Linked DNA regions of Homo sapiens: all the other regions are linked to region 2. The links come from fine-mapping of genetic effects on gene expression. A gene starts in region 2. Each other region holds a variant in brackets. All regions are shown on one strand. Distances are from middle to middle.

Region 1 (2,759 bases), 60 kb before region 2:
CAGAATATCACATTCTGGACATAAACGTGGGTCTCCTTCCAAACATGAAACAAGCTAATGAACCAGCGAAAGCCCCAATCTTTGACTGGCTCACGAACTCAGTATTTAAAACAGTAACACTAGGCTTTTGTGGGAACTATTGATGCACATTTAAGTCTTTTAATAAGGGTAAGTAAGAAGAACTCATTCTACAAATGACTCTGGGGATGTTTTTTGGGCTAGTACTCAAGCACACGGCCAGAGCTTGCTAACTCGATGCCCAAATCTGGTGTCTGCTGACAGCTATCCTCAATAGTGAGCAAATTTCTTGGGATCTGGTTTTCTCAGTCTTTAAATGAGGCCAGGTGCAGTGGTGCACGCCTGTAATCCCAGCACTTTGGGAGGCTAAGGGAGGCAGATCACTTGAGCTCAGGTGTTCGAGACCAGCCATGGGCAACATGGAGAAACCCCATCTCTACCAAAAATGCAATTAGCTGCTCATGGTGGTGTGCACCTGTGGTCCCAGCTACTCAGGAGGCTAAGGTGGAAGGATCACTTGAGCCCCTGGAGGCGGAGGTTGCAGTAAGCCGAGATGGTGCCACTGCACTCCAGCCTGGGTGACAGAGCAAGACCCTGTCTCAAAAATAAATAAATAAATAAATGAGGCTAGGAATGGTGCGGACATACCCACCCAAGAGAGATGAGGATGGTGATGGTGAGGGGCCAGGTGACGTGACAGCAGGAGTCTCCAGAGCTGCCGGGAGCCCCTCGGGCTGGGAGGCACCATGGGTACAGCAGCCCAGATGCTGCCGCAGGGCCACTCCAGTGTGCTGTGCTGGGCAGGGCCCTCCCAGGTCTCTGCAGCAGGGAGGAAGCGAGGTGTTACTGGGCCAGCTCTGTTCTCCTGAGCCGGACTGGCTCCCGTCATCTGGACCTAAAGTGGCCAAACAGGTTTTCCAGGTGGCAGCTGAGCTTCTGCAGCATCCGGAACACTTTGTTCCTAGTAGTGTCCCAGAGGGCTGTGTTCACAAGCCAGGTTCAACGTGCGATGGGAGCCTGAAAGGGAGGGCGTATCCTTCATGTGTCCCCAAGCGTGACCCAGAGCACTCCAGAGAAGAAAGTCATCCTCTGTCCGGTTAAACGGGGCTGTGTTTTTAGAGCAAAGGACAGAGGGAAAGGTCAGAGTCTCTCTCATTCGTGCCCTTCTCAGGAGGATCTGAGCTCCCACCAGAGAAGAGGCCTAGAAAGGTGACACATCTCTAGCAGGGCCCCAGAAAATTACATTTTGGAGAAAAGAATGCCTTACCTCATTCTTTGCTTAATTGTCTATGGTAGTGGTTCCAAATCTGGGGAGGTATTTTTATACAGATTCCCAGGCTCCAACCCAACTAGAATCTCTGCAAGGGGAACCCAGGAATCCATAATTCTGATGTTACAGGTGTAAAGGACTAACATTCAGGTGCTGTGACCCACACTCCCAAGATTTCTGGGATACTCACTCCCCAGAGTTGAGATGATAAAGCCTGAGGCATTTCTAAAA[A/C]TATCAGTCAACTGGTTGAATTTCATTTCTGGTCATGACCACTAAAATTCAACTGAGTCCCAGAGAAAAATTCAGAGATAGTGCATTTTTCATTGTTTTCTTGCCAGAAACCTTGGCTCCGTATTCCTATGCCATCCATTACCATTAGCTGTGTGCTCGCCTGCCAGGGCTGGCCCTGCATTCAGGGAGCTCACACACCCTCCAGCTCTGGACTTCCATACCTGGCTGGGGCACCTATAGCCAATAAGCCACTCACATTGGTAAACCTGGTTTAACTCAACTCTCCTGGTTTCTGTGTTTCAAAATCAGAAATCAGCCAAATGTCACTCCCCACCTGGACCGCCAGCTCTGGAGGAAGGGCTGTCAGGTCTGGGTGTCTGCAGCTCAGCTCGGCACCCGAGGGTGCAAGGAAGAAGCCAGTGGGTACATGAAGGACAGCTTGTTTCTCTTTCTTACTGCTGGCTCTCAGCCAATGTCAGAGGATTATCATAGCCCCTACTGCCTCTCCTCTTCTAGACCCCCACTCCCTCTCCTCTTCTCCAAGCTGCCATTCCTGAAATCTGCTTTCATCTGCCTTCCTTCTTGAATAAGGGAGAAAGGAACTAATAGCAGTTGAATTTTACTGTGCCCGGTGCTTTCATTCTATGTTATCTCTGAAAGCATCCCATTTCTCAAGCAGCCTTTTGTAATATTATCCCGATGAGAAAGTAAGGCCCAGAGAAGTTAAGGACTTTTCACAAGGTCACACAGCTGGTAGCAGAGCGAGCATTCAGGCTCCAGCCTGCATAAGGCAAAGTTGGCCCTTGAGCAAAGTTCCTTGGAATTCAGAGGAAATGCTCCTGTTTCAGAAATTGTCATCTCTACAGGGCCAGGTGCCACAAGGTAGAAGAACAGCCCAGTGCCCATCAAGGCCCACACACAGAGCCCAGGGCAGGAAACCCACACAGGAGAGCCACAGTACCCACAGAAACCACTCCCATCAGCCCTGCAGGACCCTGAAGACACCTGGCCACTGCTCTTCCCTCCAGGCCCGCCTGGGAAGGCAGTGGGATAGAACATACAGGGAGAAAGGAGTGCTGTTGGGGATCCCTGGGACTTCCCCAAGGTGCCCAGATGGCCCACAGAAGCACCAGGAGAGTGAGTCACAGCAATTGCTGGTGACCAGCAAGGAGACAGTGAGGATTTCGGAGCCCAGTTCTGGGGATTCTTGGGCCCATTTTCTTTGTGCACAGTCTGGGGG
Region 2 (2,759 bases):
CCGTTTTGAAAAAGCAGCGCAGTCGGCTAAGTCCTTCACGCTCCTGCAACTGTACCAAGTCCAGGGCGCCGCTCCTTCCTGCCGAGCGCAGGCTGCTGAGTCACGCCTGCCCGGCCAGTCTGTCCTTCCTGGCCCTGAGGCCAACGTCCTAGCCTAGGCCTTCCTGGGCGAGCAGCCGCTCCAGACACTTGCAGAGTCCTCAGCTCGGACCAGCCTGGCCCTGCCGCCACCGGGCCCCTCCTCGGGAGGCCGCGCCTCCTCGCTCTCCAGGCGCCCCCCCCGCCTGCCAGTCTCCACGCCGCACTCGGGCACCCTCGGAGGGCCCCTCCACAGAGCCAGCCGCGCTCTAGGCGCCCCGGGGCGTCACCACGTCGATCAGACCAAGGTCCCCGCCGGGCTGTCACTCGGGGAGGGTGATGCTGGGCACCCAGTCGTTAACGCTGCGGCTCTCCTCGCAAAACAGGCTGAGCTTCTCCAAGGCGGGATCCTTCCAGGCGTCCTCGTTGGGGTTCTGCGGAGAGAGAGCAGGGTCAGCCTGGCTGGCCGCGGGCCGAGGCGGGAACGACACTGGGGCGGGGACAGGACGGGACTGTACTCACCGAAATGAGGATGCAGTGCAGGTCGCCCGGCGCACCCGCCTCCTCGCCGGCGCCCACGATAGCCGCCAGCCGCTGCACATCGCCCACGCGCACTATGTCGATGTCGTTCTCGCAGCAGAAAGCCTGGATCAGCGTAAAATGGATCTGCAGCGCGATGTCGCCCTCGTCCTCCTCACCCGCAGCCAGCACACAGAAGGTCACATTGTCGGGGTCCCTGCGAGGGCAAGGCGGGGACCTAGGTCAGAACCGGCTAGCCGAGTTCTCCCGCCGCCACCCCTCCCATCCGCCAGTCTCCTCGCCATTCACCCCCGCCCCTGTCTCCCAGCCTGGGCCGCGTCTACACTTACACGTTCAAGACTTTGGCTGACTCGTAGACGCCGGCAGTGAGGCAGCCCTGACGCTGCGCCGACAGCAGCAACTCATGCAGCGCTTTCCCGGCACCCTGCATCCTGCGGAGGAGCCAGCGCAGTGAGCGGGAGCCGGCCGGAGGGCGCGGCGGAGACCCCAGCCCCGGCCACCGGCACACACCCTTGGCTCCCCAACTCCAACCACACTCCAATCCCGGCTCAGCGCCTGCACCCCGGCTCTCCAACCGGGATCTGGCGCCCGGACCCCCGCGCTCCCCTCCTACCCCGCGGATTCCCACCCTGGAAAACCCTGACGGTCGCCGACCGACCAGCGGCTTTCTCAGCGCCCTGAAACCCACCTGGCTGTGCTTTCCGGAACTGTGTCCTGGCCGCGGACTTCTTCCAGAGTCATAGTGCGATCAACCAGCAGCTAGTTATCCACAAGCGGAGAGCGCGGAGGGGACGCGGGCGAACACACTGACAGCCAGAGCTCAGCACGGCGCGCCCACCACCAGCGAGTGCGCCCCTACTACGCTGCGCGCCCTTATATAGGCTGGTGGGTGCGGCGCCGCCAGCTGGCGCGAGGCTGCGCGCCTATTGGCCGGCACCCGCTTTCTGATGTAAATGAGGCGGCGAGCCAGCGGCTCGTGCCAGAAGGCCACGTGGGGAGGGGTGCGGGGGATGACAATGCCTCAAATCTGCCGCTTTTGTTGGGGTGTTACCAGGCAGACTGGAGCCTGCAGATTTCATCTCGCCTGGCTTTTTTTTTTTTTTGAAGTCCTTAAAAGGAAAAAGTAAAAAAAAAAAAAAAAGAAAAAACCCAACCCACAAAAACCTTGTTTGCTTATATGATGCTGCAATTTGCGAAAAGCACCTTTATAGAAGCAAAGGGATTTTTTTTTGCATTTTGTATTGCTACCTTTCTATTTGTTTCTTTTCTTTAATTTGAAGTCTATGAGACTGTTGCATTGGAGCCAGAAATTAAGGTAAAAACAGGTAGCGCCAGTTAGAGGCTTGCAAAAGGCAGTGGGCACAGCCCCCTGCAGCTGACCACTAGCGTCCCGAGCGCGCTGGTGATGCCTGCCAGGCATACTCAATGTGTACATTGAGCCGTCTCTGGAAGATCCCACCCCACCTCCCCGCCCTTGGCCGAGCGCGGCGGGGCGCGGGAGACGGGGGCGGGCGGGGACGAGCAGATTGCGGCCGGCGCACGCCGCTCGTTTGCATTTCTATGGAGGGCGCACAATAGCAGAGGTCTGGCGTGTGGCGGTTTGCTGTAGGGACAATCGAGGCTTTCTCTTCATAGCAACACTGTCCACCTGCCGCCGGGTGGGGTGGGCAGGACCCCGCCGCGCGTGGGGGTCGCCGGGCTGCCTGGCGCGTGGGGTCGAGGCTGAGTGCCACTCCGTGGTCCCTGAGTGCACGCCCCCAGTACTGGCCCTGCTACAAGTAATTCCCTTCCATCCGTTCCTCGCACGGGTGCCGAACAGCCGCGCGAGTTGGGAAGGACGGAGAGCTGCTGTGCAGTCTTCGCGGCTGGACGCCCTGTGGCCGGGACCCCGCGGCTGCAGCCCCTGGAGCTTAGGTAATGCAGCTCGGAATCTTTCCCGGGGCGCCATCTGCAGGCAGGTTAAAAAGATCCTGAACCCCTTTTGTCCTCCCCTCCCCCCAACACACACACCCTTGCATTGGCCTGGCGCGGGGGAAGGGCGGTGGAGAGGGACGGCCACGGAGCTGCCCGGCCGGGCCCAGTGAGCCCTGTCCAAGCTGCGCATAAATAGAACCCGAGTAAGGGCTGCAAAACGCATTCAGG
Region 3 (2,759 bases), 22 kb after region 2:
TCCCTCTTTAATCCCTCTTTAATCTTAATCTAAATCCCTCTTTAATCTTAATTTTTGTATATGGTGAAAGTTAGCTTTGTATACTTTATATAGGGGTCCAGTCTTATTCTTCTGCATATTTTATATAGGAGTCCAGTTTCTTTCTTTATATGTGGGTCCAGTTTCATTCTCTGCATTCTTCCAGTACCATGCTGTGTTGGTTACTGTAGCCTTGTAGTATAGTTTGAAGTTGGGTAATATGATGCCTCTGGCTTTGTTCTTTTTGCTTTGGATTGCTGTAGGTATTCGGGCTCTTTTTTGATTCCTTGTGAATTTTAGAAGAGTTTTTTCTAGTTCTATGAAAAATGATGTTGGTTTGATAGGAATAGCATTGAATCTGTAGATTGCTTTGGGCAGTGTAGCCATTTAAATGATATTGATTCTTCCAATCCACGAGCATGAGCATGGAATGTTTTTCCATTTGTTTTTGTCATCTGTTGTTTCTTTCTGCAATGTTTTGTAGTTCTCCTTGTAGAGATCTTTCACCTCCTTGGTTAGATATATTCTTGAGTATTTTTTGTTTGTGTGCCTATTGTAGATAGAATTGCATTCTTGATTTTGCTCTCAGCTTGAATGTTACTGGTTTATAGTAATGCTATTGATTTTTGTACATTAATTTTGTGTCCTGAAACTTTGCGTAAGTCATTTATCAGCTTTAGCAGCCTTTTGGTGGAGTCTAGGGTTTTCTAGGTGTAGAATTATATAACCCATGAAGAGAGATAGTTTGGCTTCTTCTTTTCCTATTTGGATGCCTTTTATTTCTTTCTCTTGCCTGATTGCTCTTGCTAGTGTTTCTAGTACTATGATAAATAGAATCTGCCTTTTCATTGGCTTGTTTAGACCACATACATTTAATGGGGTTATTGCTATGATTAGGTTTAAATTTATTGTGTACTATTTGTTTTCTATTTGCCCCAAGTTCTTTATTTCCATTTTCACTTTTTGCTGCCTTCTTCTGGATTAATTAGTTGGATTCCCTTCTTTTTCAGCTTTGTTGTTGTTGTGTTGTCGTGTTGTTGTTGTTGTTATTGTTTTAGTGATTGCCATAGGGTTTATAGTATCTGTCTTCAAACTGTTAGTCTTTCTTCAAGTGATATTATACCACTGCATGTATTCTGTAAGAGCCATAAGATAGTATACTTCCATTTCTCTCATCCAGGGCTTTATGCTATATTTGTCACACATTTTACTCATACATACATTATAAATCCTACACTGCCCTATCATTTTTGTTTATACAATTACTTTTAAGGAAATTTAAATCATAGGAAAAAGGTCTTAGAGTTGCTATAAAGTTACCTTAGCTCTTCAGTTCTTAGATCCAGTTTCCCATCTGGGGTCATTTTCCTTCTGCCTCAAAGACTTCTTTTAACATTTTTGGCAGTGTCATTCTGCTGGTCAGAACTGTCTTGCTTTTGTATGTCTGATAACGTGTGTATTTCACCTTCAGTTTTGAAGGATGTTTTCTCTGGGCATGGAATTCTAGGTTGAAGGTTTGGGTTTTGCTCTGCGCTTTAAAGGGGCAGCTCCACCATGTTCTCTCGTGTCCTTCCCAGTGAGAAATCTGCTCTT[G/T]TTCTGCATCTGTTCCTTTGTGCTGCTTCTCTGGTTGCTTTTAAGATTAGATTATGATGTGCCTTGATTCATTTTCCTCATTTTTCTTGTGTTTGGGTTTTATTGAACTTTATGGAGTGGTAGATTTATACTCTTCATCAAATTTGGATATTTTTCAGTCATAATCTCTTTAGATAGTCTGTCTGTCTACATGGATGTCTTTAGATAGTCTGTCCATCTACTATAGTCATGTCCATATACATGGCAATCATGTATAGTTGTCCCATAGTCCAGTGATGCTTTTTAGTTTCTTACCCAAATTTTAGTCTTTTTTCTTTCTTCCTCTAGCTTTTTGAACATAAGAAATACAATTATAATAACCATCCTAATGCTCTTATCTGCTGATTCCAACATCAGCATCAATTTTGGGTCAGATTCAGTTGATTGATTATTCTCTTCATTTGGGGTTAAGTTTCACAGGCCTGGTGATTTTCTATTCAATGTCAATAATTTCCGGCTGGGCGCAATGGCTCACGCCTCTAATTCGAGCACTTTGGGAGGCTGAGGCAGGTGGATCACAAGGTCAGGAGTTCAAGACCAGCCTGGCCAAAATGGTGAAACCCCATCTCTACTAAAAATACAAAAATTAGCCTGGTGTGGTGGCTGGCACCTGTAATCCCAGCTACTCAGGAGGCTGAGGCAGAGAATTGCTTGAACCCGGGAGGCAGAGGTTGCAGTGAGCCAAGATCACACCACTGCACTCCAGCCTGGGTGACAAAGCAAGACTCCATCTTGAAAAAAAAGAAATCCATTTTACCTCATTGGATACTAGATTATTTCTGTATTCCTACAAATACTTTTTTAACTTTGCTCTAGGAGGCAATTAAGATTCTTAGAAACAGTTCAATGCTTTCAGGTCTTGTTTTAAGATTTGTTATTTGAATCCAGAGCAGATTGAAGTCTAGGGCTAACAATCCCCCACCACTGGGGCAAGGTCCTTCTGCGTACTATCCCCGGTGCCCCATAGATTCTGTCTTTTTTCAGCCTGCCTGGTGGGAGCAGGCACTATTCCCAGCCCTGTGTGAGTTCCCAGTACTGCTCCCTCTAATCCTTTGTGTGGGTTTCTCCCCAGCCCTGGGTAGCTTCCACGTACACATTCATTGATCCAC

The links. PIP is the estimated chance that this variant, and not a neighbour inherited with it, causes the effect.
Region 1: its variant is the best candidate, but not a certain one, in a credible set for the expression of GADD45G in whole blood (INTERVAL, PIP 0.83).
Region 3: its variant is the best candidate, but not a certain one, in a credible set for the expression of GADD45G in whole blood (INTERVAL, PIP 0.64).

The regions. Positions count from the first base shown.
Region 1 is chr9:89,663,294-89,666,052 of GRCh38, reverse strand. It overlaps LINC03062 (long intergenic non-protein coding RNA 3062), which reads right to left. Exons shown (of 6, transcript NR_024280.1): 2 at 671-1,125. Among named protein-coding and RNA genes, the nearest start is that of LINC03062, 25 kb to the right of the region's middle. RefSeq lists an enhancer at 2,669-2,759. The variant A/C (reference allele first, on the strand shown) is at 1,520.
Region 2 is chr9:89,603,721-89,606,479 of GRCh38, reverse strand. GADD45G (growth arrest and DNA damage inducible gamma) reads right to left here and starts at 1,468. Exons shown (of 4, transcript NM_006705.4): 1 at 1,306-1,468; 2 at 947-1,048; 3 at 600-813; 4 at 1-511. The coding sequence starts at 1,358. The coding sequence ends at 401. It overlaps LOC105376139 (a long non-coding RNA gene), which reads left to right and starts at 1,464. Exons shown (of 2, transcript XR_930105.3): 1 at 1,464-2,759. RefSeq lists a silencer at 2,099-2,148 and an enhancer at 1,759-2,657.
Region 3 is chr9:89,582,089-89,584,847 of GRCh38, reverse strand. No RefSeq gene overlaps it. Among named protein-coding and RNA genes, the nearest start is that of GADD45G, 22 kb to the left of the region's middle. The variant G/T (reference allele first, on the strand shown) is at 1,612.